Linked DNA regions of Homo sapiens. The protein of the gene in region 1 interacts with the protein of each later gene in a biochemical or structural test. Each region holds a gene or a part of one and is shown in the gene's direction. Other genes may lie near its edges.

Region 1 (7,764 bases):
GCCCAGGTATTCCTTCAATGGGGCCTCACAGGTGAGGCTGCAGCAACACTCCCAGCACTTGAAGGGAGTTCTGGGTAGCATATCACAATGTCCACCCCAACCCCTATTCACAGCTCAGTAATAAGTTATTGGAATTATCTCCAAAGGAACTTTACCTCCATTTATTTACAGCCTATCCTGATGCTAAACAAATAGTTAATTACCTTTATATATTGCTTCAATAAAATATTTACTAAAATTTGTGCAGTTTCTGGGCCACAAAACAGTAAATAAGACACAGACCCCATCCTCAAGGAGCACGTAGACTAGTAGGGGAGACAAGCAAGTAGGAAGTTGTTGGTTTTTTTTCCTACTCTTGATAACAAGCAATCAGTTCTCAGAAATGAAGCTCTGAGGGATTCTACTTATTTCCTTAGCTACCTGCCTTCCACTCATCCCCTTGATATTCTTCACTCTCTTTTCCAACTCATAAAAAAGTTTTGGGAGTTCATAAAAGAGCAGGCAGGCAGCCCAAAGATTACAGAATCACCAATAATATTGTAATAAGAAGTATTGGATACTTCTATAAACAGCAGTGACTTAGCATATCTGAGAATAAAGCAACTCTACTTAACACCTCCTATATGAAAGACCTTTGGCACATTATAGACATAGTCATAAAGGCTACAGCTGGAGAATTACTGTGCCCAGCTCTGAAACTTGAATATTGATTCATACGCATTGAGAGAAGAACCGAGAGACAACACAGGACCACCACATTGTGAAACATATCTTAAGAAAGATTTCTTTACATTCACTATAGCCACATCCTATATACACATAATAATTTTTATATGCTTAAGACTCCTTTCTAACATTTATAAAATAGGATGGTATCATGTTGAGTGTAACATTAATGGTTCAGTGAAATTAAAACAGATTGAATATGTTGCACATTGATGTAATCTGTATTTTTTAATAATTTAAGTATAAAACCAAAGCAGTATGGGCAAGAAATACACATTTATAGTAGACATGAAGAGCATTTTTACTATCTCTGTATCTGACATTCAGGAGACCTCTCAACTTTATGTGAGTTACATGAACTTTTATGTTGAAACAAAGATGGCAATTTCCCTAATTTTACATTTAGTGATTGCTTACTAGTTCATTCATTTGTTTTTTTCTGTTTTTATGTATTCAGTGAATTTGGAGATGTAAAATATTTAAAGAAAAATTATTCTTTTTTGTTCAAAGCAACACACACTAATTATAAAAATCCAAACAAAATAGAGAATTATGATGAAGATAAGCAAAAAATAACTCAATTCTTTTAAGTAGATGTTTTTAATAAAGTAAAATTACCAACCAATCCGCAAGCATTTATTTCAGGCATATAACATGCTAGATACCATGCTGGGCATTCAGGGGATGCAGAAAAGTATTATTCCCTGCCCTCTTGAAATTAATGGTCTAGAGGAAGGTCACGCAAAAATTGTAAGAAGTATCTAACAAGTTGCATACTAATAAATAAAGGACGAGTTGGGGTTAGCTATTTCCTGTTTCCTAAATGAACACTTATATTCATGAAAAAAACATAATAAAATGTGGCTAGACCTTCTATATCATGCAGAACCCTCCAAAATGTATACATAACATCCATTTCCATTGTTCAATCTTTCCCTCAAAATGTCTGCCTCTGATATATTTTCTTCTCTTTGATGTGTTTTATTGTCTTCCATCTTTGTTCCCTCTTCTTTCTTGTGTTACTTTTTCTTCTCTTCCCATCTTCTTTAAAATCCTCAAGGAGATATTCTTCAGAATCCCTCCAGGAAAGTATTATTATAGAAGAGGCCAGGCTCAACAAGACTGGAGGGGTGTGGCTCTCCGTCCTCCAGAGCCCCTCTCCATGCCGAGCCCACCCACTGCCATTCTCCCTCCCTTCTCCTCTTCCCCCTTAGCTCTGGGGGGAGACCTACATTCTAGGCCTAACTTACCAGATATCTGGATACTTTATAATGAAAATCATTTATAGCTACTTTCCACTAGGAGCCCACTTACAGATGAGGAAAAAAAAGGGATTTTTATAAGGAAAATGGTGTTCTAGATTTCAATGAGTAGAAACAGCTTATCATATTTAAACTATCTCATTGTCACGTGTAAAAATCACCAACAAATTCATTATTTGCAGTCCAAGAGCAAAGAAGCAACCAAACCACTCTATTACTGTCTTCAACAAGCATGTTGTTGACTTAATCTACTAATAATCACCAAATTAAAGTGATTTTCAGTCTGCCAATCATCAGGTCATCATTCAACCTCTTTGGGCCTTAGCATCCTCAATTGAAAAATTTGGTCTTGAATTAAATTAAATTATGTTATTTCTGAGGTATAGAATTTTATGATTCAAGTATTCAAAGGAATTGAAAGAATGCAAAGGTCACAGAAGTATGTCCTGAGTTTAATAAGGGACCTGGATAACACACACACACACACACACACACACACACACACACACACACACACTGCAATGATGCAAATGTGTTTATGTACCAAAAGCTAATTACATTTTTTTAAAAGCACTGGCACATTATAAACCCCCATTTTTACTTTTTAGATATATTATCATCTACCCACACTAGTGACCTTTCTTTAAAAATAAATAAGAAAATGTTTTATAACTAGGTCATATTAAACATGTTGACATAAGGTTTGGCCCTTTCCCTTAGTCTCACCCACATGTGTGGTGCGTATAAATCGAGTGGTTTTAATTTGAAATATTATTTCAAAAATCTAAACATAAGATAAGCTAAAGGGCATACACAGGCATAAGAAAAATTAGATTCCTTGCATATAAAGTAGAATAGTGCATTTTATATTAAATATTAAATTTTTAAATGAACCTAAAAGGATGAATTTTTTAAAAAAAGTTATGATAGTATTTTCTATAACTTGGTAGAACTTTTAGAACTGACTCTGACTTTAAGGCTGATCTAGACTACAGGCTGTTGGCCTAAAATCCACGGATGAGGGTCCGTCCATGCCCGTGATCTAGGGAATTCATCAAATCCTGGAAATTAGATGAAATATAGTGTGTGTAGATTCATTATTTAATGGTGAAAATGCAGTGCTTCCAACAGAAGGCGTTTTGAACCCAATATATTCAAGAAACACTGGCTTCTATTTCAAGTCCTTGTTTTAGTGATGAGGGTACTGAAGTCCAGAAATGGCTCGGGGTTGCTGGGGACCACAGCTAATTAGCTACTGTGCCAGAAATAGATCTCACATCTGTAGTGGAGCCATCAATCCAGCTCCTTCCTTCTCTGTACGCAATAGATTAGTCATAAAATGGGATATGGAATCCTTTTTTCTTCCAAAAAAAAAAAAAAGAGAGGAGGATTGAAGTTTTGAAATGAGATCTAAGGGAAAATGTCATAGAGGCATGCCGTGGAGATCAGAAAATAAACCCCAGCCCTGGATTCAAGCAGTGGATGTCCTTTCAGCAGAAAGCAACAATTTGAGAACTGGCTTTTCCTATTCCTGTTTAACGCCCCACCATTCATGGTGAATTTCTTTTCCATTGCCTTACGATTGTCTTTGGTTTATCTTCTCTTGTATCTCATGGTAGGCTTTCTCCTCGGGCTTGGGAATACATTTTCCCCCTTCACTCCCCTCCCCAACATTTATGTTCCTCATGGTTTCTTTCACTTCACATGAAATTTATGGCCCCCACATGTGCCTTTCTGTGACCCTGTGAGGAGAGAGGAGAGAGGCATAGAACACTAATCTGTGGCATAGAACACTTGAAGGGTTCAAGCCACGAGGATGAATCTGCCTGAATGTCCAGCAGACAAGAAGTGGCCACGCTAGTTCTACCTGAGCACAGGTCTGCTGCGGCCACCTCACTGGCCAAAGAACCAAGCACACAAGGGCACACGAGCGTTGGAGAATCGACAGCGCTCCATAGGAAAGTACCAGAAAGGGAAAGCCGACTCTAATGTTTTTCCTCTCCTACTTTTCTAGCCTGTGAGGGAACACGTTGAAGAAAAACTAAGCAGCAGGTAATGGCAGAGACTTGTTTTTGAGCAACTTACAACACGTTTCTCTCTTCTTAAATCTTTTCCAGTTGGCTCACGTATTACCCACAGAAGAGAATTTCCTGCTGCTCTTCCGATGCCAGCAGCTGAAGTCCTGTGAGGAATTCATGAAGGTATAAGAAAGCTGCCCCTTTAAGAAAGCTGCTTAAAGTAGGAAAATTGTTCCTTTTATTAAAAATGTGTTTGTTTTCCTTATCCAAAATTACTTACAGACATGGAGAAAATATGATACTGACCACAGTGGCTTCATAGAAACTGAGGAGCTTAAGGTAAGCAAATAAAAACTTGTACTAAGTTTTTCCTTTCAGATGCAATTATGAACTAAGAGTTTCCTAGCTTTTTAAAAAACCTCCCACAAAAGAAACTAATGTTGAACAGTGTCACATTTTCACCTACTCTTCGACATTGTTAATGAAGTACCAGATCAAAAAAGCATCTTCAATTGCTTCTGGAAATTCTGTACAGTAATGCAAAAAATTAACATTTTTTGTGGTGTACACAAATATAAGACAGACAGACAGATAGAATTATAGATAAGCCGAATAAGCCATTCTTTTATTGAAATTTGTAGTTTTAGTTCTCAAAATAAACACATATATATATAAATTTTCTTACAAAAGAAAGAAGAAAAAGTTACTGAATAGCTACTGTATGCCAACTACTTTACACATAATGCCTTATTTAATCTTTGCGTAAGTTGTATGACATTGTATTACCCCATTGAGGAAGAGTTGAGAGAAGTTAAATGATATACTGAAGGCCACACAGAAATCGGACAGAGCCTTGATGTGCAAATCCAGGCTTGTCTGCCTCCAAGGCCTGTAGACATTCTACACAACCTACTGACTCTCAGCAATGATGATAAAAAATAAAAAATCTTCTAAAATTAAACTTTTGAAAAACTGCAACTTAGAGAATGAATTTATCACTTCGGATATCACAGAGGAGGATATAAAGGAAAAGGCAGAGATCTGAAATCAAGTCTTAACTCATTAATTACTATATCTTTCCAATTTTCTTTAATCTTTAAAATGAGTGTAATAAATCCTTCCTCTCAGGCTTATTGTGAAGCTCCAGTAAGATTCTGCACATGAAAGCTTTTGTGACATGCAACATAAAATAAATTATATTATTCATGAACTCAATTTACTAGCCTTTCAGGAATATGGAAGTATTCTTCTCATTTCCTCAAGCCGACCCCAAAACATCGCCATCTGAAAGACCCTACTTTTTCTATTTTTAGAACATAGAGTGACTAAAATATAAGTGAGTTAATATTTACTGACTATCTGTCAGGCAGAGTACAAGGTGCTTGAAGTGTATTTTAAAATTTAATCCTCACAGAAAATATGCAAGGCAGGTATTATCACTCCTAATATAAAAACAGTGAGATTGGAATGCAGAGAGATTTGATGATTTTTCAAGATTACACAGCTGCCTAGGAAGAGAACCTGGATTTGTACCTAGAATATCTGATAATGCTAAGAATGATTCCCCACCCCACCCCCACAGCACTACATGCTTTCAGACTTCATTTATTAAGAGCTGCTCTTTTGCTATGTGGGGAAATATGAATATCAACAGTTCTAGTCATAATTCAACATAGTTTGAGTAGCATACAATTTTAAAGATGGAACGGGGACATTTGGGCCATGGCAAAATGGCTAAAACATACTCAATTTTATCCTCTTGAAAATGTAAACGTTTTTAATGTGAAGTCACTGAAAACAGTGTATTTTACAAACTTGCAGCTCAGCAATCCACAAGGTGACAGTTAAGCCACTGTGTTTTTATTTTATTAGTTAGACCAAAAATATTCTTTTAAAGATCCTTTTTAGTTCATAATGAAAACCTTAGCTCATTTCCAATACTGACCTCTAAATATTCTAAAAGCCTCCTTCTTTGTTCTAAATTTTATTCTCAGAAAGAGATTCTAAATAGAAGTCCTCTTCCCTGGGGAATTTTGAAGATAAGTTGGCATTCTTTTTTAATGGATCTTTCAAGAAAGCTAATTTTAAGATCCATAATAGAGTAAAACATCACTTGCTCTCAGACACGACTTTGAATCTCTGCGTCCCAAGGTTTCTCCGAGGCTATTTTTGTGACCACCATTTTAGTCTCTGATGAGGCTTTTTAACCCAATTAATCTCTGACAAAAGCCCCAGAAGGCTCAAAAATAAAATTCAACCCCAACAGATAACTTTGAATTTTCCATGCTTCACTTTGGATTTGAAGTGGAATATTTGAAGTAAAAAATTTTTATCAAACTAAGAAAAGAGTCTCTTTCCTTTAAAAAAGTGGCATCAAATCAGCCCAGAACTGGAACATTTAGGAGAGAGATAAGTCATTGCTAAATCAAAGAAATCTAATCCTTCAATAATATCTGGGCACAGTATCTGCCTAGTTTTTCCTAATTGCATTAATTCATTTTCTGAGAAAATAAAGGAGTTACGAATGAATAGCACTAAACAAAATGAATGACTATTATAAAGTGCTTACACTGTCACTTATATGGCAAATCTTTGTAAAGCTTTTATTTATGTTTCTGTTAAAAAAACTTAAATTCATTCCTAAGCTCCAGGTGTCAAGTTAATAATCATCTTTTTTTCATCCTTCCCACATTAATCTCTATTTTAATATGATTCATATATCTTTCAAAGATTCAATGACATCAACTGTGGCCAATTTTGTTAATTTAAATAGTCAGTGGAAGCATTTTAACCAAAGTGCTTTGGACTGCATTAGGCTAAAAACTACCCAACTGGCCCTCTGGAGAAATAAGCATCATGCTGGCTATAAACTAATGTGTAAATACAGCCTGGGGAGCAGAAAATGGATTTGAAATTAGGGATAGATCTCTATTTGGTTTACTGATATTTTTTCACAATATTCCAAAGGTATAAAGGCCCTTGTGTTTCTTGCAGAACAATCCAATGAGTACTTGTGAAGATATCAGTAAGAAGAAATGCATCCATTGGGCTGGCTGGTTTTAAAAGGTTTTATTCAGGTTAATTGAAATCATAAAGTCATGGTAATGCACAGACAATGATCAATCAAGTCTCAGTAAAAAGCAGGTATTATTCCTGTCAAAGGTAGTTTCATTGCTGGAATGCCAGGAGGACAACCTGGTTTAGTCTTTCTTCTATTATAAGTTCCTCTACTCACCTGCTTCTACCCCTCAAAAGGAGACTTTCTTTGCATTCCTGGTATGTCCTGTTCCAAGGCATTCTGAAATGAAAGTAGACGATATATTATTAATGAAATTAATCTAAGTGTTCTTTGTTTTAACAGAACTTTCTAAAGGACCTGCTAGAAAAAGCAAACAAGACTGTTGATGACACAAAATTAGCCGAGTATACAGACCTAATGGTAAGACTGATCTTGAAAAGATTGTACCCAAGAGCTCATGAAGTAGTATGATGTTCTTGCTAACTCCCAAGGCTACACAGGATGAAATAAATAAACGGTGGTGTGGGCATCATATGCACATAGGTATCATTTCATTTGAAAAGTGAAATACTTAGGGATGCTTACATCTTGTCATTTTGAGTTCTGCAGGCATTGGCTTTAAGACTCAACATATGAGCATTTTCTTCCTTGTAGAGCTGTGTAATTTTTATCTATCAAAAGATGACTTGTTTTGCTTCCAAAGCCAGTGTAATTATATCACTAAATTATATAACTTACA
Region 2 (8,664 bases), on another chromosome or scaffold:
GTAACCCCAGCACTTTGGGAGGCTGAGGCAGGAGAATCATTTGACAAAGCGAGACCCCCATCTCTACAAAAAAATTTTAAAAAAGGTTGCAGTGAGCTGTGACTGTGCCACTACACTCCAGCCTGGGTGACAGTGAGACCCTGTCTCTGAAAAACAAAAACAGAAACAAAAAGCTCTTTATAATTGTTAGGAGTCTAAAGAGGTCTGAGATTTAAAAAAAAAAAAAATCAGAACTGCTGGGGCAGGGTAACACCTAGACTGCTGAGCCAGACACTAGGGACCTGACACTACTTACTCTGTGCTGCCTTTGCAATCTTCCTTATCACCACTATCTCTTAAGTCCCCCTAGGTCCCAGCCTAACCATTTACTTATTAATTTCTGCATGTACTCTGGACTTCTCAGCCTGACTTTGTGCATCCCATTCATTCCTCTACCTGGAACACATGTCCCCACCCGCTTAATCCGCCTGTTCTGGTGGTTAGTGGGTCAGGGCTATCCCCTCTTAGCACCAGGGCCTGTGGATGGAGGAACTCATTCAAACCCAACTACACAGTTTGTTTAAGGATATGTTCTGCATATAGCCTTCAGGATCTGTTTATCTTCCTTAATTAGAATTCCTGGTGTGCAAAGGACCCAATTTTCCCTCTGTTTTATATTTTTACCATCTAAGGGCCAAGTGTGCTACCATAAACTTTATGGGATTTTTGTAAATATCAGCTGACAATTTCTGGTGATCTATGTGGGCTTTTATGATCCTGTGCAGACTAATCAGAGTATTTAGTGCCCGCTGTGAGCATAACACTTAGCAGCAGGGAGAGGGGGTTAAGGAGGTGATCCTTGCTTAAGGACCCACACGGTGGTTGGAGAGACAGGATTTATAGCCAAGAAGCAATCACACAAGACACAAGAATGTATGTCATCAAAGGGGAAGCCAGGTGCTGCAGGCCTTTAGGGAAGGGGAGGTGGGGGTGGGGGCACACGAGTGTCCATAGCAGCAGTAGCAATCAGAGAAGTCTTCTGGAGGAGGCAGAGACTTGACCGAGGCTTTTTCAATGGAGAGGGGTTAGTGAGAGGTCAGCAAGTCAACAAGGTAGGGATTCCTGGTCAGCGAATAAACAGGAGCCAAAGCAGAGAGTCAGAAATGAGCACAGCATGTTCACAGTCTAATGAGACTGCTGACCACAGTTTAAAGTGAATGGTGCGAGATGATAAGGTTGAACGCTAGTCAGAGGAGTTTAGGTTGAATGTGGAAGGAAGGAGGAAGAAAACATTTTTTGGTCAGGGAAGTGACATGGTGTGTTTTGAACAAGATGGATTATTTGTGGGAGGAAAAATGGAGAATGGGCATCTTGTGCATGACCTGGGGTGTGAGATGGTGAGGTTCTGGACTGGGCCATCAGCAAGGTTTTTTGAAATGCAGTGCACGCAGGTAATCATGTCTGGCATGCCAGCTCAGTGCGTTCAAGTGGGAGTGCTTTATAAATAAGGTCATGGAGATTAAGACCCCACAATAGTGTGTTAGCAACATAATTGGGTTGTAGCACATGTAGCTGATTTAGAGCTGAAATCTTTTGTTTTAGCCTTTCCTCATGTCTTGTTGGCTCAGCTACTAAGTAATTGTGTGTGGTTTTGGGCGAGCTACTTAACTCCTCAGTGTCTTGGTTTTGTTGTCTGTAAAATGAGTTTTGTTTTTTTTTTTTTTTAGAGTTTTGCTCCGTTGCCCAAGCTGGAGTGCAGTGGCACAATCTCTGCTCACTGCAACCTCCACCTCCCAGGTTGAAGTGATTCTTCTGCCTCAGCCACCCACGTAGCTGGGACTTAAGGCGCACGCCACCATCCCCAGCTAATTTTTGTAATTTTAGTAGAGATGGGGTTTCACCATGTTGGCCAGGCTGGTCTCAAATTCATGGACTCAAGCCCGCCTTGGCCTTCCAAAGTGCTGGGATTATAGGCATGAGCCACTGAGCCTGGCCAAAATGAGGGTTTTATAGTACCTCGTAGGCTTGTTACGAGAATTAAATGAGTTAGTACATATAAAGTGCCTACCCTAGAACCTGGCACACAGGAAGCCTTTAAAAGATCTTATTATTTATTTATTCAGTAGTTTGCATTATCATGGGAATATAAATATTTAAATTACCCAATGGGCCAACGCATCTAGAGCTGTGCTGAATCAAGGCCCTCAAAAAAAAAAAATGCTTGCTGGAGACATCGCCAAGATGAGACTCATTCAGAAACTGGGATGGAATGTCAAAAACTCCAATTCAAGGCTGAGCAGTGGCTCATGCCCGTAATCCCAGCACGCTGGGAGGCTGAGGCAGAACTGCTTGAAGCCAGGGCTTGCAGCTTACAGTGAACTATGATCACACCACTGCACTCCAATCTGGGCAACATAGTGAGACCCTGTTTCTAAAAATAATTATTTAAAAAAAAAACCCCAAACCCTCCTGCAATACCATAAACTTGTTAAGATCTAACGCACAAAACCTGGAGACCGAAACCACAATTTAATCATGTCACTTTTGAGCTAAAACAACTTCACTGGCTCTCACTGCCAAGAAATTGAATCTGGTCTTCTTAGCCAGCCAGCCTTCCTCCACAGATTTGGGTTGGCCTTTCCAGCCTCCTCCTCCTCTAGCCCAGGGGGTCTTTGCCTCAGCCACACTGTGCTCCTGCTCATTTTTAAACACACCCACCTTGCACTTCAGTCTCCCCTGTGCCTTTGCTCTTACCCCCAAAGCTCATTCCTCATACATCATTTATGCCCTGTAAAAGTAGTCACCTGTTTTTAATAGACTTTATTTTTTTTAAGAGCAGTTTTAGGTTTACAGAAAAATTTTGCAGCAAGGACAGAATTCCCATATATTCTCTCCCCCAACAGTTTCTCCTATTAACATCTTGCATTAGTGAGCTACACTATATACACAGTTATAACACTGGTACACCCCAGTGTTATAATTGATGAACCAATATTGTGGTACTACTATTAACAAAAGTCTATAGTTTGCATTAGGGTTTATGCTTTGTGGTGTACAGTCCAACGGGTTTTTGACAAACGCATAATGTCCTACGTCCATCATGGCAGTATCATAAAGAATAGCTTCACTGCCCTAGAATTCCCTGTATGCCACCTATTCATCCCTCTTTCTCCCGGTCAGTTTTTAAGAATCAGTTCAAATGCCCTCTCTTCTGTGAAAACATCTCAGTTCCCTCAGTTACAATTAATCTGTCTGATGCTTGTATAGCGCTTTTTCATACTTGTTATAGCTGCTATGTTTGCATGGTATGAAAGAAGTATACACGGCCGGGCGCGCGGTGGCTCACGGCTGTAATCCCAGCACTTTGGGAGGCCGAGGCAGGTGTATCACCTGAGGTCAGGAGTTTGAGACCAGCCTGGCCAACACGGTGAAACCCCGTCTCTACTAAAAATACAAAAATTACCTGAGGGTGGTGGCGCGCGCCTGTAGTCCCACCTATTCAGGAGGCTGAGGCAGGAGAATCTCTCTTGAACTCAACAGGCAGAGGTTACAGTGAGCTGAAACTGCATCACTGCATTCCAGCCTGGACAACAGAGTGAGCAAGACTCCGTCTCAAAAAAAAAAAAAGTATACAAACTTTTCTTCTGTCATTAGGTTGTCCTTGAGGAAGGAACTGTGCCATAGATTTGTCCTGACATCTAGACCAGACCCTTATTCTTAACCGGTGCCTTATGAATGCTGGCTGCACTGAACTGAACAATGAGCAAATATGGTTCGGCTCAGTCATCCACTAGATACAGTATTTTTCCCTCTAGACAGGAGCTGCTGTTTGCAAATCTCCCCCATTCCAAATCTGAGCCAGCAAAGGTATCATAAAACAAACTTGCTCAGGGAATTTTGTAGAAAAGGCCTCAAGAGGCAAGGCTTTAGACCAGGAGTTCTGAAAGTGACATGTGTACTTGTGAATTTCATACATGCTCCTTGGATGGGCTAGTTTCTTTGGAGGGAACCGTCTTCTATTCCCTTCAGATTTTGGATCAGAAGCAGCCATAGGAGAGGTGGCCCAGGCCAGCTTTATATTGTTACTAGACCGTAGGGCGATTTCTCGCCTCTCCAGTCTCCAAAAACAAAGCACAAAAAAGGACAAGAGCCTGGTTGTTTTCATCCTCACGGACCAGACACCCCCTCAGGAAGGCCTCTGGAGAGTCTTCTGTCTGGTCCCCAGTCTCTCTGCCCAGGTGCCCCCCAACAATTGAGGATGACTAGTGTGTTCTCTTTGGGTAAGGAGCACCTTCCCATAAACACTTATTTTTCTTAATTCACGCTGAGCTTTTACTTTATTTTCGCTTTAAAGTCACTGTTCTGAAACGTTCTAAAACGCCGTAGGAACATGCAGATAGGAACAAAAGCAAATAAATCGAATCCTGTGAAGTAACAAAGCAGACGCCCTTCTCCTAACAGGCAGCACAAAGCTAAATGAAAAATATCAGTCATCCACTAGATAAAGTATTTTCCCCTTTAGACAGGAGCTGCCGTTTGCAAATCTCCCCCACCCTAAATCCAAGCCAGCGAAGGTATCAAAAAATAAACTACTCCCTTCAGCTCCCAGACTGGAGGCAACAGTTTCAGCAGCACCGTCTATTTCCTTGAACAACACGAGCGGTTTGAAAGACCTTGGCTTTGACTTCCCTGTACCTGCCTCCAAACACACGTGGGGGCGGGGTGGGGTGGGGGGAGATATTGCCCCCCATCCCCGTTGCCTTCCGCGACGCCAGGCCAGGCGCAGGGCAGGGGAGAAGATGGGGGGCGCCCTGGATTCGCGGTTCCAGCTGCAGGCAGTTACCTGGGGTAGTGAGTGCTCTCTACAGACCCGGGCTACCCCAACCCCCCCGATTCCAGAAAGGGCCGGAGAAAAGCAGGGGGCGCCTGCCCCGCTCCGGAGCAGCCAGGGAGCCCGGCCGAGCCTTGACGAGGATGAGCTCGGAGACCGCAGCAGCTACCGCCCGCTAGCACCTGAGCTCCCAGGGGGCGGGGCCTCCTCCAGGTGTGCGCAGAGGAGGCCGGCGCGGAGTCGGGGCCGGCGCGGGAGCCCGAGCTGTCCCCCAGCCCAGAAATGCGCGGGGAGGAGCGGTTCATCCGCACCCCAGCGCCGCGGGAGACACTGGCGCCGCCTGCCTCCTCCGGGTCCCGGGGGGAGAGCGCACCGTGCGGCGCGGAGGGGGTTAACCGGGCAGCCCGCCGCTGGAGCGCGCTTAACCCTTTGGAGCCCGCAGGTCAGCCGGGCCAGGCTGGGGTGGCGGCACCCCGAGTCCCACGCGACGGCCACCCCGAGCGCGCAAGTGGTGCCGGGCAGAACCGCGCGCCGGGCTGCAGACCCGCCGGGGCGCGGCGCGGCGCGGGCCGTGGGCGGCTCGGGGCGGGCGGAGGGCGGGGGACGGCGGCGGGCGCGCAGCGTCGCCAGGGCGAAGCCGGCGTGCGGCGCGGCGCGGCGGGCGCGGAGCGAGCGGGCGGGCGAGCGCCTCCGTCCCCGGATGTGAGCTCCGGCTGCCCGCGGTCCCGAGCCAGCGGCGGCGCGGGCGGCGGCGGCGGGCACCGGGCACCGCGGCGGGCGGGCAGACGGGCGGGCATGGGGGGAGCGCCGAGCGGCCCCGGCGGCCGGGCCGGCATCACCGCGGCGTCTCTCCGCTAGAGGAGGGGACAAGCCAGTTCTCCTTTGCAGCAAAAAATTACATGTATATATTATTAAGATAATATATACATTGGATTTTATTTTTTTAAAAAGTTTATTTTGCTCCATTTTTGAAAAAGAGAGAGCTTGGGTGGCGAGCGGTTTTTTTTTTAAATCAATTATCCTTATTTTCTGTTATTTGTCCCCGTCCCTCCCCACCCCCCTGCTGAAGCGAGAATAAGGGCAGGGACCGCGGCTCCTACCTCTTGGTGATCCCCTTCCCCATTCCGCCCCCGCCTCAACGCCCAGCACAGTGCCCTGCACACAGTAGTCGCTCAATAAATGTTCGTGGATGATGATGATGATGATGATGAAAAAAATGCAGCATCAACGGCAGCAGCAAGCGGACCACGCGAACGGTGAGCAGCCAGAGCCCGGGCACCCGCTGCCAAATCCGATCCTGTCATGGTCCTCCAGCCCCCTCCCCCTTCCCCGCGGCGCTGGATGGGTTGAGGGGGTTGGAGAGGGTGCTGCCAGCTCGGTGTCGTCTACACAGAGAGGGGACATGCGTGACAGCCACTCCGCGCTCCCCTCCAGGCCCTGAATGTCAGAGTTAATTCTGCATTTGTGGGGTGGGGGCGGCCGTGGAGTGTGTGGAGCGCGGTGCAGCCGGAGGGGCGGCGAGTCGGGGTGATTCGGGTTCAGTGTCCTCGGGCTCAACTTTCCTTCAACGCCCCCGAGCGATGGCAGGAGGGCCGCAAGTCTTCAGCCGGAGCCCCCTTGCCAGCCTCTTCTCGCCTTCCACTCCTCCCCCGCCCCCTCGTTGACTAGGAAGAAGGTCCCTGGTGGCATCCGGAAAATTCTAGGATTGCCCGGTTTCGCCCTCCGCGCCGGTGGGTGAAGCACACCCATCCCCTCGCGGGGGAGGCCCGGCCTCGGTATCGGGGAAAGGGGTTCGGGTGGAGCGTGCGTTCCCGCTCCCGTCGCCGGCTGTGCACACGTCGGTAACCTAGCAATGCCCGGGGAGCCGCTGCCGCTGTGGGGCTCCCCTCCCCAGCTCTGGCCCGGGCACCACGTGCAGCTTCCACGCCGGCCGGGGCTGGGTCGAGGGAGGATGGAGCAGCTCCTGGCCAGCCCTCCCCTTTGGAGACCGCCAGTGCCCCCCAACCCCTGTCGGCTGGAAGCCTTTCCGGGTGAGCGCTCCCCTAGGGAGAAGCTTGACATGACTCGACTCGTCCCCGCTCCGATTGCCCGCCGCTCGCCCGCTTTGCCCTCTTCTCAGGCTTTCAGACCCGTGCTTGCTTTGACTCTTTACTTAGCAATAATTGGCTTTGCAAACGCCCATCTCTCTACCTTGCTGTCACCTCTCTCACTTCTGCTTCAGTGAGGAGACTGTGGCGGAAGGCGGCAGGTGCCTGGGAGATCTGCCTGGGAGATGGCCTGACCCAAAGCTGGCGGGGGCTTCGCATAGGGAGCCTCCTTGAGTTTCTGCCTTGTGTGCACCTGGATACCAACCTACACGGAGATAATTCCCTCTTAGGCCTGGAGGCCCCTGGCATAATCCAGTCAGTCTATCCTAGGTGTAGGGGTGCAGGCTGACTGCCTTGTCTGTCTCTCTGGATGCTGGCTTGGCTGATGCTGCTGCAATTTAAAATGCAAAAAAGCCCTAAAGATGTTTTCTGTTTTCGGAAGCCTGTGGAGGAAATGAGTCCCAAGCATCATGAATTTTCATTTGCAGGAAGTGTCAGTGCATAATCTAGATATTTGTTATGGGGTTTTTGGTATTGCCTGGGTGCCTATGGAAGATTTTTTTTCGGTACTGAAAAAAATGCATTTGTGGCTGTGGAAAGATGTTGGAGTAACACTCTGAAAATGATTAAGACTATTGAATTATTGGTACTGCCTTTTTTTTTCCCCTTGGTGATGGTGGTAGTTATGTTAGAGAAAAGCTGTTGTATGTATCTGTTACTCATTAGAGATAGATGGGTTTTACAAATCAGAGATGCGGAGTAAATGTGGGAATGACCTCAGTTTTGTCAGAAGAAATGCACTAAAAGACCCTTTGTGAAGACATGATGTGAAGGAGTACTAACCCCACTGGGTGTGATGCAGCGGTGATCCTGTGTGATTGACACTGAGACCAGAGCTCGTGGACTTTTCTTGACTCTCCAGCTGACTAAAGCCCAGCTTGTGAAAAATAGCACATGAGATTCAAAATGGAAACATAGGAGTGAATGATTCCCCTGTTATTGATGGGAGACAACCTTTGATTTTTTTCTCCTACCCACTGGATCCTCATTTAAAAAAAAAAATCTTTGTTTTTCTCCTTCTCCCCAGAGGCAAACTATGCAAGAGGCACCAGACTTCCTCTTTCTGGTGAAGGACCAACTTCTCAGCCGAATAGCTCCAAGCAAACTGTCCTGTCTTGGCAAGCTGCAATCGATGCTGCTAGACAGGCCAAGGCTGCCCAAACTATGAGCACCTCTGCACCCCCACCTGTAGGATCTCTCTCCCAAAGAAAACGTCAGCAATACGCCAAGAGCAAAAAACAGGGTAACTCGTCCAACAGCCGACCTGCCCGCGCCCTTTTCTGTTTATCACTCAATAACCCCATCCGAAGAGCCTGCATTAGTATAGTGGAATGGAAGTATCCTTTTTTTGGGGGAAGTCTTTCTCATTTTCTCTTTTACCATCTGTTTTTTAAAAGGATTTGCTTTCTGAAGTGACACAAAGCTGTAGCAGTCTGGAATGCGAGTAACAGAAGTTGTATATAAGGGGTTTCATTGTATATACCTTCCTGTCTCTTCGGGTTGCAGAGGGGTGGCTGTACGGGTATATTTAGCCCACTGTCTGGATGTGTGTATAGTAGTAGTAGTAGGGGGAGGGAGTGACAGCCTGAAACTTCACAGGGGCAGATAATTAAAATGTGAAACCAACCTTTGGTTATTGGACATTAGATGGTTAGTTTTAAATTCAGTGTTGTCTTTGGGCAATAGCATGCATTGAACCTATTGCAA
Region 3 (7,764 bases), 8.4 Mb from region 1:
CTTTGGCCTGCTAAATTAGTGCTGGGAGGAGTGAGCCGCTGTGCGTGGCCATGAAAAAATATTTTTACATAGCTACTATATTCATAGAATTTGACCTTCAAAAGATAGAAAACGCAGTGCAAAATGCCCTTCACACTTCCATTTCTGGTTTCCCAGGATCCATCTCTGGAGATGACCACTGTTACAAGTTTCTCGTGAATCCTTTCAGAGATGTTTCATGCCTATAGAAGCATCCTGTGTGAACGTGTGCCTGTGTGTTGGGGGGAGGGTGTGTGTGTATAATACCTCCACTTTATCCTATTTACAAAGGGTTGTATACCATACAAACTGTTTTGCATCTTAGATTTTGTGGGGAGTGGAGATGAGACTTTTTATAGGAAAAATTTTAAGAACACTTATATTATGAAAAGATTAATTTTATTAACAAAAGTTCTATGTTGGTTAATTTGTATTTTGTCCTTTTTTTTAAAAAAAGATTTCCTTTTGTAGCTGTTTCAATTGGCTTTGCTGTAAATAAAAAGGTATGATTTTTTAAACGTATAGTTGATTATATGCCTTGCTCTCATTTTCTGAGAAAAAGTAAATGTGTTTTCATAATAAATTCAGGTTTGTCTGTATATTTGATTATATAACTGCATTATTTTGAATATAAGCTACAGGACTGTTAAAATTTTCATGATACATTTGCATTGGATAAAATTTTATGTATTCTGAGAAGCAGGAGTTGTAAGAAGAAAATACACACAAGTAACTGAAATACAACTCAGTATTTAGTAACCATTATATGTGTGATAGAGTCAGATGGGATAGAAGTTTATATGTGATCTTAAATGCTTCGTGGAAGAGGTGAGATTTGAGCTGGGAATGCTTTAGTAGGTGTTAGTGAAGAAATACATTTAGAAACCAGCAAGTAGCAGGGGCCAAAGCATGGTTGGAAAATACAGACTCTCTTTAGGAACCTACACATAGTTCAGGTTGTCTTATGTGTAAATACTTACATCTAAAGCCTAGCAGAATAAAACATATAGCTATAGCATTTCCTTGCTGTTTGGCTCCTTAGTTGGTCAAACAGTAAAGGATGGTTACTAACATTTTACCTACCTATCTTCAAGGAACTTTTGATATGTAAGATCAACATGTATAACAGCAGTTATAACATTTCTGAATATAAAACACATATTGGACAAATGACAGCTTAGCCCCAGGGTTGTATTAATTAATGAGAATGTCCAGAAGAAGCTACATGAGCTTTCAGTATATAATCAGCTCTGGGCTGTATGCTGGCCCTGCCACTGAACTCAACAGCTCAGCACAAAGTTAGATGTGTGAACAGGTAAAGATGATATGTGGTAGAACCATGAAAAAAAATACTATGGGAACACAGGATGTCACCAGTTCTGCTGAGAGTGGGTTGGGAAAATCTTCATAACAGCAGGGGTCTTAGAAGTTGATCATGTGTTGGCCCTTAGAAAACTAGGGGTTTCCAGATTGGCGGGGGTGGGGGGGTGGTGGGAAGAGGAAGGCGTTTTAATCAGAAAGAACAGCTTGGAGAAATTGAAGACCATTATACGTGTGGGGAATGGTGAGATGTTCATGGAGAGGGAAGCACTGCAAGTGGCCAGGACAAAGGTTAGTTTGGCCTTGCTGTGAGGCACTGTGGCCAGTCCATGCAAGAAAATTTAGTTTGTGTTTCAAGGTAGTTGGGAACCAGTAGAGGTTTTGAAGTGGAAAGTGACAGATAATTCTAGCAATGTAGAGATTATACTGGGGTGTGGGTGAACTAAGTAGAGGCAGTGAGAATAGCCAAGGAAATGCCAAAATTGGAAAGTGTTTTTGAGATTAAATTTGAAGGAGATTTATGGGGAAGGAATGGGAGGTGATCAGGCAATGAATGATTTTGTCTTTGAAATTCTGCAAGACTAGGTTTGGAACCGTAGGTTCTTCCCCCGATTATGAGGTTGATGGGAGCCAAAATGAATTTGTGGACTGTAAAAAACCAACCTGTGTGAATATGGAGAGCTAAAAGGGAAATGGAAGCAATGGGAGAAGGAAGAAAAAAGCCTGAGGTGCCTAACTTTTCAGGGTGAGGCAGAAAAGAATGTTCTAAAATCATAACTGAAACGAATTAGTAGGTGAGGTAGAACTAAGAGAATAATGGTGGGAGCATGGAGGTAGTGAATTAAGTATTGAATAAGTCTTGAGCCAGTAGACTCCAATTCTTCAGACAAGGCATTTGAGGCAACAAAGAAAGTTTGTTGATACTCTCTTTGTGGGACTTTCAGAAGAATGAGTGATCAGGGCAGAAGCCACATTGTAATGTATTAAGAGGAGAATAGGAGATGCAAAGTTACTCATTGGCAGTGAAGGGAAAAGGATAGAATAACATTTCAAAGGTTTTGTAAGGAGGAGAGAAACTTAATGAGAAGGTATAAGAAGAAAAATCCAAGAGACTAGGGAATCAGCTGATGGAGCAGTTTTTCAGAGAATGTATGTGAGGGTAGGAGTCCTAACACCGGAGAAGCGTTCACTTAGAAAATAGGAAAGCCCTGTCTTCCGAAGCAGGAGGAAGAGAAGTAAGGTGGGTGTTCTTAGATCTGGACTTGGATGGGAGGAGAGTCAAGGATATCAGTTCTGGTGACCTCTTTCTCTTGATTAGTCTGGAAATTAACATTTTAAGTATCCCACAGTTTAGCCATTTCAGTCCATTGTTACTAGTCAGTATACCAGATTGTCTTGTTATTTTCTTAGAAAAAAGTGGATGAAACATACTTAGGTTTGGTAAAGGAAACTTGTTTTCCTCTGCAGATAGAATTTGGAGTTGTGTACAGTTGTGTGGAAGGCAAGATGTACACTGCCAGAAAAGGAAAAGGTGCCTTTTGTAATGGTCAAAAACTACAAGTTTCACAACAAGAAGGTAGGATTAATTCCAATTTTTGATGCTATTCATATTGTGTGCTCAATATTTTATTGTTTTTTAATATTCACCTATGGAATTCTCCAGGTGTTAACTGATTCATAAATTGTGTTTATTATCTCTTTATTCTTTTTGACTTCAGCTTTGAATGTGGAATGGAAGTAGGGAAAGAAATGTAATTGAGCAAACACTTCAGGCTCAGCATTGTATTTTGTGATAGAGATAGGAAGATGATTAAGACTGGCTTCCTATTGTGAACCCAAAATATCTGAGACAGGTCTCAATCAGTTTAGAAGTTTATTTTGCCGAAGTTAAGGAGTTAAGGTGACACAGCCTCAGGAGGTCCTGACGACATGTGCCCGAGGTGGTTGGGGTACGGCTTCCTTTTATACATTTTAGGGAGTCGTGAAACATCAATATGTGTAAGATGTACATAAAGGCAGGACAACTAGAAGTGGGGAAGGGGGCGGTGTTCAGGTTATAGGTAGATAAAAGACAAATGATTATATTCTTTTAAGTCCGTAATCAGCCTTTAAATACACAATTGAGTCTGGCTCAGTGAATCTGCATTTTTACATAAACAATAGGGCAGATGAAGCAATCAGATATGAATTTGTCTCAGGCGAGCAGAGGGATGACTTTCTCTCCCACACCTGTGAAGATAAGCTATCAGTCTACATTGCCAGGGCAAAATTCAGCCAGAACTGTTTTAGGGTAAAGATCTTGAGGTCCACAAGGAATTTCCTTGTGGGCAAATTGTAAGGGAGGTATGTAGCTCTTTTGTCTTTGTAGGTGTCTTATTTAGGAATTAAATGGGAGGCAGGTTTGCCTGACATAGTTCCCAGCTTGACTTTTCCCTTGGCTTAGTGTTTTTTGGGTCCTCAGATTTATTTTCCTTTCACACTGTCCTTGTGGAATTCATGGTTTATGTTTTATCTACTGCTTCTAAAATTCTTTATAGAATTCCTCTGATCTGATGCCCCAGGACCAATTACTACAAAGTAAATGGGTGGAAAAAAAGCCCGTTAAAGCTGGGAATCACTGAAAATGAGACATATATATTTTATAAGCTGAATGGCAATTTAAGTTCTTTCTTCTCTATTACATCTGTTGGCCTCAAAAAAGGAAGTGCAGGCAAAATTAATGTAGAGAGTTTATTTGGGCCAAAGTTGAGGACTGCAGCCCAGGACACACTTCTAGATTACCTTGGAGAGTGCTCCAGAGAACTTAGCAGAGGCTCAGGTTTTTAAAGAAAAAGGGACACACTGGGAGAGGGGATGATGAGAAAAGTTGTACTCAGGAATTCTCATTTGTTTACAGAAATAACATTGCTTAGTGATTGGCTATACACTGTTGAATTATAGGGTGCATGGCATTTTATGGCTGCTTGGCATCAGTGAGTCTAGAGCCCCCTGTAGCAAGCGGCTTCAAGTGGCAATTATTTAACTCCAGGGGAGTGAGACTGTCTGCTGGTATATTTTAAATGCCTCTTCAGGCTTGATAATTTAAAGGTACTGGCATTCTGCAGATTAAAACTTTTCTTTTTCTTTCTCACAGCTTATTGAGGTTTTGAGTTACTGTTCTTCCATAAACCACACCAAACATTTTCCACAGTTTGCACATTGAAATTCTTTTCAGTGCAGCAAGAACTTAGAGGTACTTGCAAAACAATTTGAGTTTAGAATCTTTCTAGACTTTTATACCTTTTTCCCTCAAACACTTAATTTAAGAGCAGATTTTTAGGCTATTTCCTTTTCATTAAAATCTAAGACCCCATGAAATGGAGGATGCATTCTTATTTTTCTAGATGTCATCATGTGAGAAAATACAAATCTTGGACCGAAGGAATATGGTAGCTTTGATAGAAACAACTCTTTTCCTTTGCATAGTCATTCTTCACTTTACAAAGTATTAAATTATGTAACTTTTATTTTTTTTCCTCCCGAGACAGAGTCTTGCTCTGTTGCCCAGGCTGGAGTGCAGTGGCGTGATCTCGGATCACTGCAACCTCCGCCTCCCGGGTTTAAGCTATTCTCCTGCCTCAGCCTCCGGAGTAGCTGGGATTACAGGTGCGCACCACCATGCCCAACTAATTTTTTGTATTTTTAGTAGAGATGGGGTTTCACCATGTTGGCCAGGCTGGTCTCGAACTCCTGACCTCGTGATCTGCCTGCCTCCGCCTCCCAAAGTGCTGGGATTACAGGTGTGAGCCACCATGCCCAGCCCTAAATTACGTAACTATTAAATGTAGTACAACAGTTACAGAAATGCTCAGATCAAACACAGCTGGTGAACATACATCTCCATTGGTGGGAGGAGGTGAGATCTAGGGTGTTGGGTGTGTCCTGAGCTTCAAATGGAAAACCTTGGATAACCTGTCAGCCTTGTAAATGGATGTCAGAGAATTTTACTTTTGTTGTAAAAGTAAAATTTTTACTTTTACTGTAATTTTACTGTAATTTGTTTTCTTCCAAATCTATACATAAATCCCTTATTGAATTTAGTCTCTCCTTTTTAAATATTTAAGACATTTGCTGTTTCCCACTAAGTATTATGTATGCAGGCAAATTGGTTACATTATGTACTTTTTCAGGAAGGGCCTAAGCAGCTGGACTCTGATGCTTATAAAAAGGATCACATAGGGATAATTAATTTATCAGTATTTTATTATTTAAATGCTTATAAAGAAACACGATAAAACAAGGAAGAGGGATACAAATGCCCTCTTCTGAATTACAAGTGTCAGGTATTTTCTAGAAGTCTAAATATTGAAACCTAACACTTTCTTTTTAGATATTACCAAATCTCTCTTGGTGACTGAGTTGGGCTCTTCCAGAACACCAGAGACTGTGAGAATGGTTCTTTCTAATATGGAAAAGCTTTTTTGCATTCCTGTTCATGGGTAAGCTCTTTACCATTATTCTATCTCTCTCTTTGTATACGTGTGTGTGTGCACACACCTTTTTTTTTTCCTGTACCATTTTAGAGTAAATTATATACATCATGGTTTCTAAAGAATAGGGAGATTCTGTTCCATAACCATGAAACCACTGATTTCATAAATACACTTTTTATCTAATTTGTCATCCATATTCAGTTTTGTCAGTTAATCTGCTAATGTCCTTTATAGCATTTGCCTTCCAATAAAGTAGGATTCAGTCTAGAGTCAGCATTATTTTTAGGTGTCATGTCTCCTTAGCCTTCTTTGATCTGGAACATTTCCACAGCCTATGAAATTACTTCCTTTAAGTTTTCAAATTATTTGCATAGAAGTCTGTAAGATAGACTCTTATAATTAATTTCTGGCTTCTCTATATCAGTGGTTATTTCCACCTTGTCACTTATTTTGTCTATTTGTGCTTTTTTTCTTGTTCTTTTTTCTCAAAGAACCAGGATTTTAATTTAAGCTGGTTTTTTCTTTTCTGCACTATTATTTTCATCTTCGTGCTTTCTTTTGGTTTGTTTCCTTTTTTTTCCTTTTTGATTAGAAAATTTATTATAATTCCTTTATGTTTATTGATGTAGATATTTAGGCTATGAATTTCATCTGATCATTGTTTTCATTGTATCCCATAAATACTGATACTTACTGTTTTCATTATTTTTTTCATAAATTCTGTAATTTGCTTGTATTTCCTCTTTTACTGAGAGTTATATTCTTAAATTTTCACAAGGAGAGTCTGTCTTAGTCCATTTTCTGTTGCTTATAATACCTGAAACTTGGTAATGTGTATGTATAAAGAAAAGGAATTTATTTCTTTCAGTTATAGAGGCTCAGAAGCCCAAGGCTGAGGAGCTGCATCTGATGAGGGCCTTCTTGCTGGATTCTTTGTAGAGTCCTGAGGCAGCACAGAATGTGACATGGTGGGGCTGAGCATGCTAGCTCAGGTCTCTGTTCTTCTCTTTATAAAGCCACCAGTCCTAGTCCTATGATGACTCATTAATCTATTAACCCATGAGTGGATTAATCCATTCATGAGGGCATAGCCCTCTTAGAGACCCCACCTTTCAGTACTGCTAGATTGGAGATTAAGTTTCCATATGAGTTTTGGAGGGAACAAACATTCAAACCACAGCATTCCACCCCTGACACTCCCCAGATTTGTCTTTTTCCATACAAATACACTCATTCCATCCCCAGGGTCCCAAAGTCTTCACTTGTTCTATCATGAACTTAAAAGTTTAAAGTCCACAGTCTCATTTGTGAGCCTGTGAAATCAAAACAAGCTATCTGCTTCAAAGATACAATAGTGACACAGGCATAAGACAGGCATTCCCATTCCAAAACGGAAAATTAGGCAAAAAGAAAGAACAGGCGCTAGGCAAGTCCAGAATTCCAGCAGGGCAGACATGAAATCTTAAAGCTCAAGAATAATCACTTTTGACTGCATGTACCACCTCATGGAGACACTGGGGGTTGAGGGCTGGGTAAAGGCCTCTGGCAGCCCTGCCCCTGTGGCTTTGCAGGGTACAGCCCATATGGCTACTGGCATGGGTTGGAGTCCAGTGCCTGAAGCTTTCCAAGGTGTACCTTGCATGCTGCTGGTGACTCCACAGTTCTGAGGCCCAGGTAGTGGTCCTGCTTTCATGGCTCCACTAGTTAGGCATTACCCTAGTGGGGACTCTCTGTGGTGGCCTTACTTCCTGGGCTCTACTAGGCTTTACCTTGGTGGAGATTCTCAGCTACCACTAACCCCACAGTTCCACTGTGGCTCTGCCCTTGAGACAAGTCTGTTCCCTGGCTCCCAGGCTTCTGAGGACAATCTTTGAGGCCAAGTGGAGGCTGGAAAGCCTCTACAGCTCTTCCTTTATGCAAGCTTGCAGAATTAGTATCATACTGCTAACATTTA
Region 4 (7,764 bases), on another chromosome or scaffold:
GCCTCCCGAGTAGCTGGGATTACAGGCATGCGCCACCACACCCAGCTAATTTTGTATTTTTAGTAGAGGCGGGGTTTCACCATGTTGGTCAGGCTGGTCTTGTACTCCTGACCTGAGGTGATCTACCTGCCCCAGCCTCCCAAAGTGCTGGGATTACAGGCGTGAGCCACCATGCCTGGCCTGTTTCTATAAAGTCTTTAGGTCTCAGTTTTCTCATTGGTGAAATGGGAAGGCTGTACTATCTCACCTGTTTTTGGCTTAAAAGTTTATAAACTTGTTAGCTCTGTTGATTATTAAGAATCAATACATTTGCATACTTTGCTTTAACCATTTATTTCCATAATCCAGTAGTACTTTATATTTTTGATATTTTGATGTAATATTTTGTTTCTGATTTGTTCTGCTTGATTGAACGGTTGTTTTTAAACACACCCTCTTTGCATTTTACTGTGAAATCTATTTAACATATTCACACAGAAATTATCCGCTCTTGATCTTTACCTTGTTTTGTACTGAAAAATACTTGTTATAACTATTAAAGATATAAGACATAAATACAGAAAATGAAAATATGGTAGGATTTGGAGTTGCAAGAGGAAAAATCAGTTTTGGATGTGGTATCAGACAAACTTGTGTTCCAATTCCATCTCTGCCATTTGTTAGCAGAACGACCATGAGCAAGTTATTTAACCTTGAATCCTCATTTTCTCTGTCTTTGAAGTAGAAATAATAATAGTGGCCTCACAGAATTATGATTAAACCCTGGCATTTAGTAGCCACTCAGAAACTCATTCTGCCTTTAGATGTAACAACCAATTAGTGACATAGCCAAAAGAATGACCCCTGTATTTTTTGTTTACTTGAAGTTATCACCTTTTCATCTTGATTAACCTTGAAACCATGGAGTGTACCTGAATGCATTTCTGAGTTTGGGTATATTCAGATTCATCCTTTTCCTCCCTTGAAATACATATATTTGAGGTTTTGTGTTTTTTTTTTAATATAGAGAATCTCCACTCTTCCTGGCACTGTGTTTTGCTTATAGTTATGGTCTTATCCCCTTCCCTTTGTAAAGTTAGGCATCCCAAATATACAGAATGAAAACAGTAAATTTAAGCTATTAAATGCCAGACTAGCTGAGATCATACTTTTATGATAACTAGCTTTAACATGCAGTTTATAGAAATGTATCATATATAAAATGTGGGATAAACCTGAGTTATGTGTTTATAGTTGAATTTCTGTAACTACTATATGACATAATCTTAGAACAAGAATTACATGCACATATATTAGTAGCATAATACCACGTGGTATAATACAACGTAGTCCCTGAATAAATAAAACAGAGATCTTGGGTCTCTTTGTTTTTTCTTGATGATTACATTGCAGGAAGTGATATTTTTTCATCTAACATATAATGTATTTTAGATCATTTGTTTTAGCCTTCTAATATTTTGATTGGGATTTTAAAATATGAAGTAAATTTATAGTTCTATTCTTTTAAATGTAACATTAAAAGAATTATTAAATCTAACATAAAATGGATAGATGTTTAATGAAATATGCTATCTTACAGCCAAATTTGTATCCTACTGTGGGGCTTCAAACACCAGGAGAAGTGGTCGATGCCAATTTTGGGCAACATCCTTTCGTGTTTGATATAGAAGACTATATGCGGGAGTGGAGAACCAAAATCCAGGCACAGATAGATCGATTTCCTATCGGAGATCGAGAAGGAGAATGGCAGACCATGATACAAAAGTAAGAGTGAAGAAATTTCAATTGATGCTATTCAGAATCTGTTTTTTATAAGACATTTATTCTGTTGGTATCCACAGAAGCTTTTTAATCCACTAATTTATATACTGACATATCTATTATATTATTGATTTTAATCTCTCAACGAAAAGTAATTTACTCCACTATTTAAACAAATTAAAAACAATTGTTTGACACACGTACAGAATTGTATTTCAGTCTGAATTAATTTGATGAAGGAAATAAAATGATGTTAGGTCACCTAGGCTAGGTTAATTCATTTGCTATTCTTAGTAATAGGATTTAATGATTTCTGTAGGTTATACAATTTAACTTTTAATAATGTTAATGGAAAAGATAAAGTTGAGAGATAATCTAGATCTTATAATCAGGATCTGTGGTTTTTGGTCATGAACTTGGCTATGTCCAAGCTCTTAATATCTGAACTATCAGCAGTAGTTAAGTATGGACTTAAAATTTAAATAAATACCATTAAATTTAAAAAGTCCTCTTCACTATTATAATCCAGGTCAAGAAAATAGCAGACTTTCAGATACAGTTGGTCCAACACATTTCATCTTTAATGTCCTTATAATTGCTTTGAATATTCTTAACTTTAAAATTGTAATAAAATGTTGGGGGTATTTTTTAGAAAAGGAAGTGATTGGGAGACATGATGATGACTCTGAAATCACACTTCGTCCCTGGAGCTATTATCATCTGTATTACAGAGATTGGACACTAGTTTTTTTGTCCAGCCCAGTTGAGAATAGACAACCCTGATGCAGAATCCTATAGTCACCACGAAGTGAAGCTAGAATGGGTTGTTCTGGGGCCACACTGTTTTAATGCTCTGAAAATGGTTACCACTGAGTATCATGGCAAGATAGTAGAAAACATTTATCTTAACCTTATAACCAGGATCCTTCCACCCACTTCTTCACTGACTTGATGTTCACCATGAACTCTTGAGAAGTCCATTCTAAAAGGTCCCCTCCCCCTTAAATTAATTTGAACAATTGGGTAAAATAAGATGCAGATCTGTTTCTTAGACATTTTCCTCCCTTTTCTCCCTCCGCTCTTTGCCTCAGTCTCCTCCTGTGGTGAACCACTGCTTCCCACGATTTTCTAACTGGCCCTTAGTAGTGTCAGGTGGAGGCAAGTTTAAAAATTGACTGTTTGGAGATAACAGATATTTGGGTTAATATTGTTGCATCACCAGTTTTTCTAACCACATCTTGTGGGTAGATGTAAGTATATGTTTTGACTACCTGGTACGTTTTTAAAAGATTATTGTCTTGGAAATGTGTCACTTACATGTAAACCATATTTGATAAATCTCTTGGGTAAAACCATAGTAATTGATTTAGATTAGAAGGCTGATTCCTCCTTTAATTAGTAGTACACTTATAGACATGTTCTGGAAGATTGTCTCTCTGGATTCACCTTAGTATTCTGTACATACTTTGTGATCCCACTTCATTTAACCGGTGTGTAAAGAAGATGGTTGAACTCTGGAACATTAAGAGTTAATCTTTTATTTTAAAGTTGGTTATTTTACAGAATGCCAGCAATACTGGAATAAGTCATATGATAAAGTCAAAATAGAAATTATGGTTAGTAGGGCTGAATAATAAGATAGGAAGGGACCTGGGGGTAATGAGAGTCCAAGAATCAAAGAAAAGGTCATTTAATGTCCTTGATTCTCAAGTAATATTTATTTTAGGGAGAGTAGTCTCAACATAGCATTTGCAGTTATCTTTTCGAAAATAGTACATGAATAGAACAAAATGATGTTTTTCAAAAGCTTACTTTAAAGGTGAGGTTCTTAACGCCTTGTTTCAAGGAAATAGGTTCGTTTTTATAACACCAGAATAGATTTTGTTTATATAAATTGTAGTATGAAGCATGTATTCTCTTCACTAAAAGATGTATGTTTCTTCTTTTTATTTTAAGAATGGTTTCATCTTATTTAGTCCACCATGGGTACTGTGCCACAGCAGAGGCCTTTGCCAGATCTACAGACCAGACCGTTCTAGAAGAATTAGCTTCCATTAAGAATAGACAAAGTAAGGACACTGTGGTGCATGGCTAACATTTGTTTTCAGATTATAGATTTGGTTACTTTAATTTTTAGAAATTTTGTTTTTTTAATTAAAAAAATTTCAAATATATTAATTTAAAATGGATGCCTCTGAATTTTATTTTCACTGACATTTTTGAAGATCAGTTTAAAAATTCACATAGGACTATGTCAGAATTCTAATTCTAGAGAGATTTTACAGAAGTTTTTTGAAGGAATGTCTTTACCATTTTTTTCTTAAATGTTTTCTTAAGCTTTCAGGAAATAAACATTTAATAAAAAGATTTAAAAATAATAATAAAGTAGTCCTGATTAGTTGGAGGAGATAGTATGTGAAAGAAATGTAAATATCTTTGAATTTAAATGGCTAATACAGTATTGATCCATAAGTATTTATTATTTAGATCCTAGTGCTGGCCTCTGTGGCCAGAGATAAAACAGGTCCTGTATAACAATGGCAAGTCAGCATAACTGGTCCATAGTTAGCCATCCTAAAATTGGTGCTGTTTGTCCATCAGGGTGGGTATGACTTGACAAGAGTATAGAGATGAAAACAAAATAGATGGGTGAAATTAATGGGTGAAAACAACTATTTCATAGGTCAAATTGCTGTAATAGCACTGATTACATTGGGTTGTAGTTAATTGTGTGCTGTCCTTTTCTACTATTTTAATAAGCTCTGTTGAACAGAGATCACTTACTCATTTTGTATCCTTATCATCTAATTTAACATATAACAGATCAAGTGAATGCTCAACGAGTCTCTGTTAAATTGGAATCTTAGTCAAAAGCTAGCATTTTTCAGTCCTTTGTTCAGAAGATTATGTTTGATAAGGCATTTTAGTATCCCTTTAAAACAGTCTTTTTAATCTCAGTGTTTGAAACTTCAATATTGCATAATAGGTATTTTAACTATATTACTCGTATGTTCGTGATTTTAAAAAAAAAATTTGTGACCGTACTTGTTTTTCTAATTTTCTAGTATGTCTGAAATGTTTCCTGGATTGCCTAATGGAAACTATGATGTTAGAGAAAGAAATTGAAATTAATCATAATTTATTTAAAGATTTCTTACTAACTTTCTTTTCTGAGGTCACTAAGTTTATGTTTTATCTACTTTTGTAAAAGTTAATCGTTTGCTTTCTTTTACTGAATAGGAATTCAGAAATTGGTATTAGCAGGAAGAATGGGAGAAGCCATTGAAACAACACAACAGTTATACCCAAGTTTACTTGAAAGAAATCCTAATCTCCTTTTCACATTAAAGTGAGTTTGCATAATAAAATGCTATATTTGTTATATATTATAAATATTTGTCAAGTTATGTAATAAAAGACATTTTCGTGCTTTTGTAATTTTAGTTTTTTTCGTTTTTCAAGTATATACAATTTTGTAATGTCATTTAAGCAACATGTTATGAAAAATACTTTTGTGTTAAGGACCATAAGCAGAAGGTGTCTTTTGCTATGTATTTGCTTTTATTATTCTATTTATGTGTTTAAAAATGTGAAAATCTTATTTAGAAGATGGGTGTCTATTTTTCCTTCTCAGAAGTACCTTACATTTAATCTCTCTGGCATTTTAAAAAATTGTGGTAAAATATACATAAAATTTACCATTTTTTACATTCACATCATTGTGCAACCATCACCACCATCCGACTCCAGAACTTCTCCATCTTCCCAAACTGAAACTCTCTATTAAACACTAACCATCCATTCATCCCCCTAGCCCCTGGAAACCACCATTCTACATTTTGCCTCTATGAATTTGACTACCCATATAAGTAGAATCAGAGTATTTATTCTTCATTACTGGCTTATTTTAGTGTAATAGCCTTAAGGTTCATCTTTATTGTAGTATGTATCAGAATTTTCTTCCTTTTAAAGGCTGAATTTTACTCCATTGTTTGGATAATACTGCATTTTGTTTATCCATTCATCCACTGATGGACACTTAAAGTTTGCTTCTACCTCTTGGCTGTTATGAATAATTCTGCTGTGAACATAGGTGTACAAATATCTGAGTCCCTGCATTAGATTTTTTTGGTTATATACCCAGAAGTGAACTTTCTGGATCATATGGTAATTCTATGTTTAACTATTTTTTTTTAATAATAGCCATCCTGATTTGACAATTTTAATTGGTTTTATGAATCTTTGTTACTTAAAAAATGAGATGTTACTGAGCTTCAGATTTCAACTTGTTAAGCAACAGATATCCTTTGTAAGTCAAATGACAGAATTGTTTTGCTTTAGAATAAGAATTTTAAATGAGGCCCATTTTGGTTAAGAGGTTGGGAATGGGACGGGTGGGGAGAAAGGCTACGCTTTATATGTATCTCATATACATAAAATCATGTCCTTAGGCACAATTTGATTTGCTACCAAGCGCAAATGTTATTTTGATTAAATTACTTGTAGCCAAAAAAATGGGGTTCATATCTTCTTATAGGTAAATTTCCATTTGGTAAATCCTGATTAAAGGGGGTAATATTATTATAGTGTCTATTACATTGTACTCTCATTTTTCTGGAAATTCTAAAATTCTAAGCATTAAAGCATAGGACACCATATTTAATATTTTTAGCTTACTAAAGACCAATCCTACTGATAAATCAAAGTTTTAAAAATATTTTTAGAAATCTGTTGCTATTAAATAAAAGGCCATTTGAAGATTGTGTCTAAGTAAATTTTTCTTTTCTCCTTTAGAGTGCGTCAGTTTATAGAAATGGTGAATGGTACAGATAGTGAAGTACGATGTTTGGGAGGCCGAAGTCCAAAGTCTCAAGACAGTTATCCTGTTAGTCCTCGACCTTTTAGTAGTCCAAGTATGAGCCCCAGCCATGGAATGAATATCCACAATTTAGCATCAGGCAAAGGAAGCACCGCACATTTTTCAGGTGAGATTTAACTTATGACATTATTTTTAGATTTTTCCTCTTTATAATCTTAAACCTTTTTCCTTTTGAAAATCTGTATATTTCCAGCTGGGCACGGTGGCTCACGCTTGTAATCCCAGCACTTTGGGAGGCCAGGGTGGGCGGATCACGAGGTCAGGAGTTCGAGACCAGCCTGGCCAACATGGTGATAACCCCATCTCTACTAAAAATACAAAAATCAGCTGGGCATGGTGGCAGGTGCCTGTAGTCCCAGCTACTCGGGAGGCTGAGGCAGGAGAATTGCTTGAATCCTGGAGGCAGAGGTTGCAGTGAGCTGAGATCACGTCACTGCACTCCAGCCTGGGTGACAGAGGGACACTCCATTTGTCTCAGAAAATCTGTATATTTCCTTTGTAGCTGTTTTCAAATGTGTATACTTAAGATTTTTCTGGGTGAAAAATTGTAGGTTCAGATTGACATGTTCTCAGTACCAGGAAGTCACTTGAAGAACAGCTGTCTGAGAATAGGTTATTAGCAGACCTTCCTAAATGAAAGTCAGCATTCACAATGAGTAGTCACCAGAATTAAATTATTGATTTTTAATAGTGAAAAGGTAATTGTGTGTTTTAATAAAATATAAATTTAAAGGTGATGTGGCTGTGATACCTTATGCCACTGGTTACCACATCTAGCTGGGCTGCCGCTGCCTCCCTCCTCTCCCCCCACCCCCAACCTTTCCCAACCAAGCCTCTTGCAAAAGTCAGCTCTGCCTAGTTCGTTTTCTCCCATCCGTTTGTTGGCTCACCAGTCTTACTCTCTGTGACTTTGGGCTTTCTCTTAATTAAAATTCTCTCCTTTCTTGGCTTTTGTGACATCACTTCTACAGGTTTTTTTGGTTTTGTTTTTGTTTCTTTTTAAAGAGTTGGAGTCTCGCAATGTTTCTGATGCTGGTCTCAAACTCCTGGCCTCAAGCACTGCTCCTGCCTCAGCCTCCCAAAGTGCTGGGCTTACAGGTGTGAGCTACCGTGCCCAGCCACAG

The links.
Region 2: the proteins of CALB1 (region 1) and CACNA1D form a complex in vitro, tested with the Homo sapiens proteins (one study listed by BioGRID).
Region 3: the proteins of CALB1 (region 1) and IMPA1 interact in a test that uses a peptide from one of them, tested with the Homo sapiens proteins (one study listed by BioGRID).
Region 4: the proteins of CALB1 (region 1) and RANBP9 form a complex in vitro, tested with the Homo sapiens proteins (one study listed by BioGRID).

What each region holds. Positions count from the first base shown.
Region 1 is NC_000008.11:90,065,579-90,073,342, reverse strand, and holds part of CALB1 (calbindin), read left to right. Parts: intron 1-4,105; coding exon 4,106-4,189; intron 4,190-4,288; coding exon 4,289-4,345; intron 4,346-7,060; exon of another isoform or gene 7,061-7,304; intron 7,305-7,367; coding exon 7,368-7,445; intron 7,446-7,764. UniProt on the Homo sapiens protein: Buffers cytosolic calcium. May stimulate a membrane Ca(2+)-ATPase and a 3',5'-cyclic nucleotide phosphodiesterase.
Region 2 is NC_000003.12:53,489,168-53,497,831, forward strand, and holds the start of CACNA1D (voltage-dependent L-type calcium channel subunit alpha-1D), read left to right. Parts: upstream 1-5,443; 5' UTR 5,444-5,999; coding exon 6,000-6,066; intron 6,067-6,647; exon of another isoform or gene 6,648-6,662; coding exon of another isoform or gene 6,663-6,840; intron 6,841-7,984; coding exon 7,985-8,294; intron 8,295-8,664. UniProt on the Homo sapiens protein: Voltage-sensitive calcium channels (VSCC) mediate the entry of calcium ions into excitable cells and are also involved in a variety of calcium-dependent processes, including muscle contraction, hormone or neurotransmitter release, gene expression, cell motility, cell division and cell death.
Region 3 is NC_000008.11:81,668,991-81,676,754, reverse strand, and holds part of IMPA1 (inositol monophosphatase 1), read left to right. Parts: intron 1-475; coding exon 476-521; intron 522-2,805; coding exon 2,806-2,914; intron 2,915-5,707; coding exon 5,708-5,816; intron 5,817-7,764. UniProt on the Homo sapiens protein: Phosphatase involved in the dephosphorylation of myo-inositol monophosphates to generate myo-inositol. Is also able to dephosphorylate scyllo-inositol-phosphate, myo-inositol 1,4-diphosphate, scyllo-inositol-1,3-diphosphate and scyllo-inositol-1,4-diphosphate.
Region 4 is NC_000006.12:13,638,545-13,646,308, reverse strand, and holds part of RANBP9 (ran-binding protein 9), read left to right. Parts: intron 1-1,579; coding exon 1,580-1,764; intron 1,765-3,717; coding exon 3,718-3,830; intron 3,831-5,001; coding exon 5,002-5,110; intron 5,111-6,555; coding exon 6,556-6,746; intron 6,747-7,764. UniProt on the Homo sapiens protein: May act as scaffolding protein, and as adapter protein to couple membrane receptors to intracellular signaling pathways. Acts as a mediator of cell spreading and actin cytoskeleton rearrangement.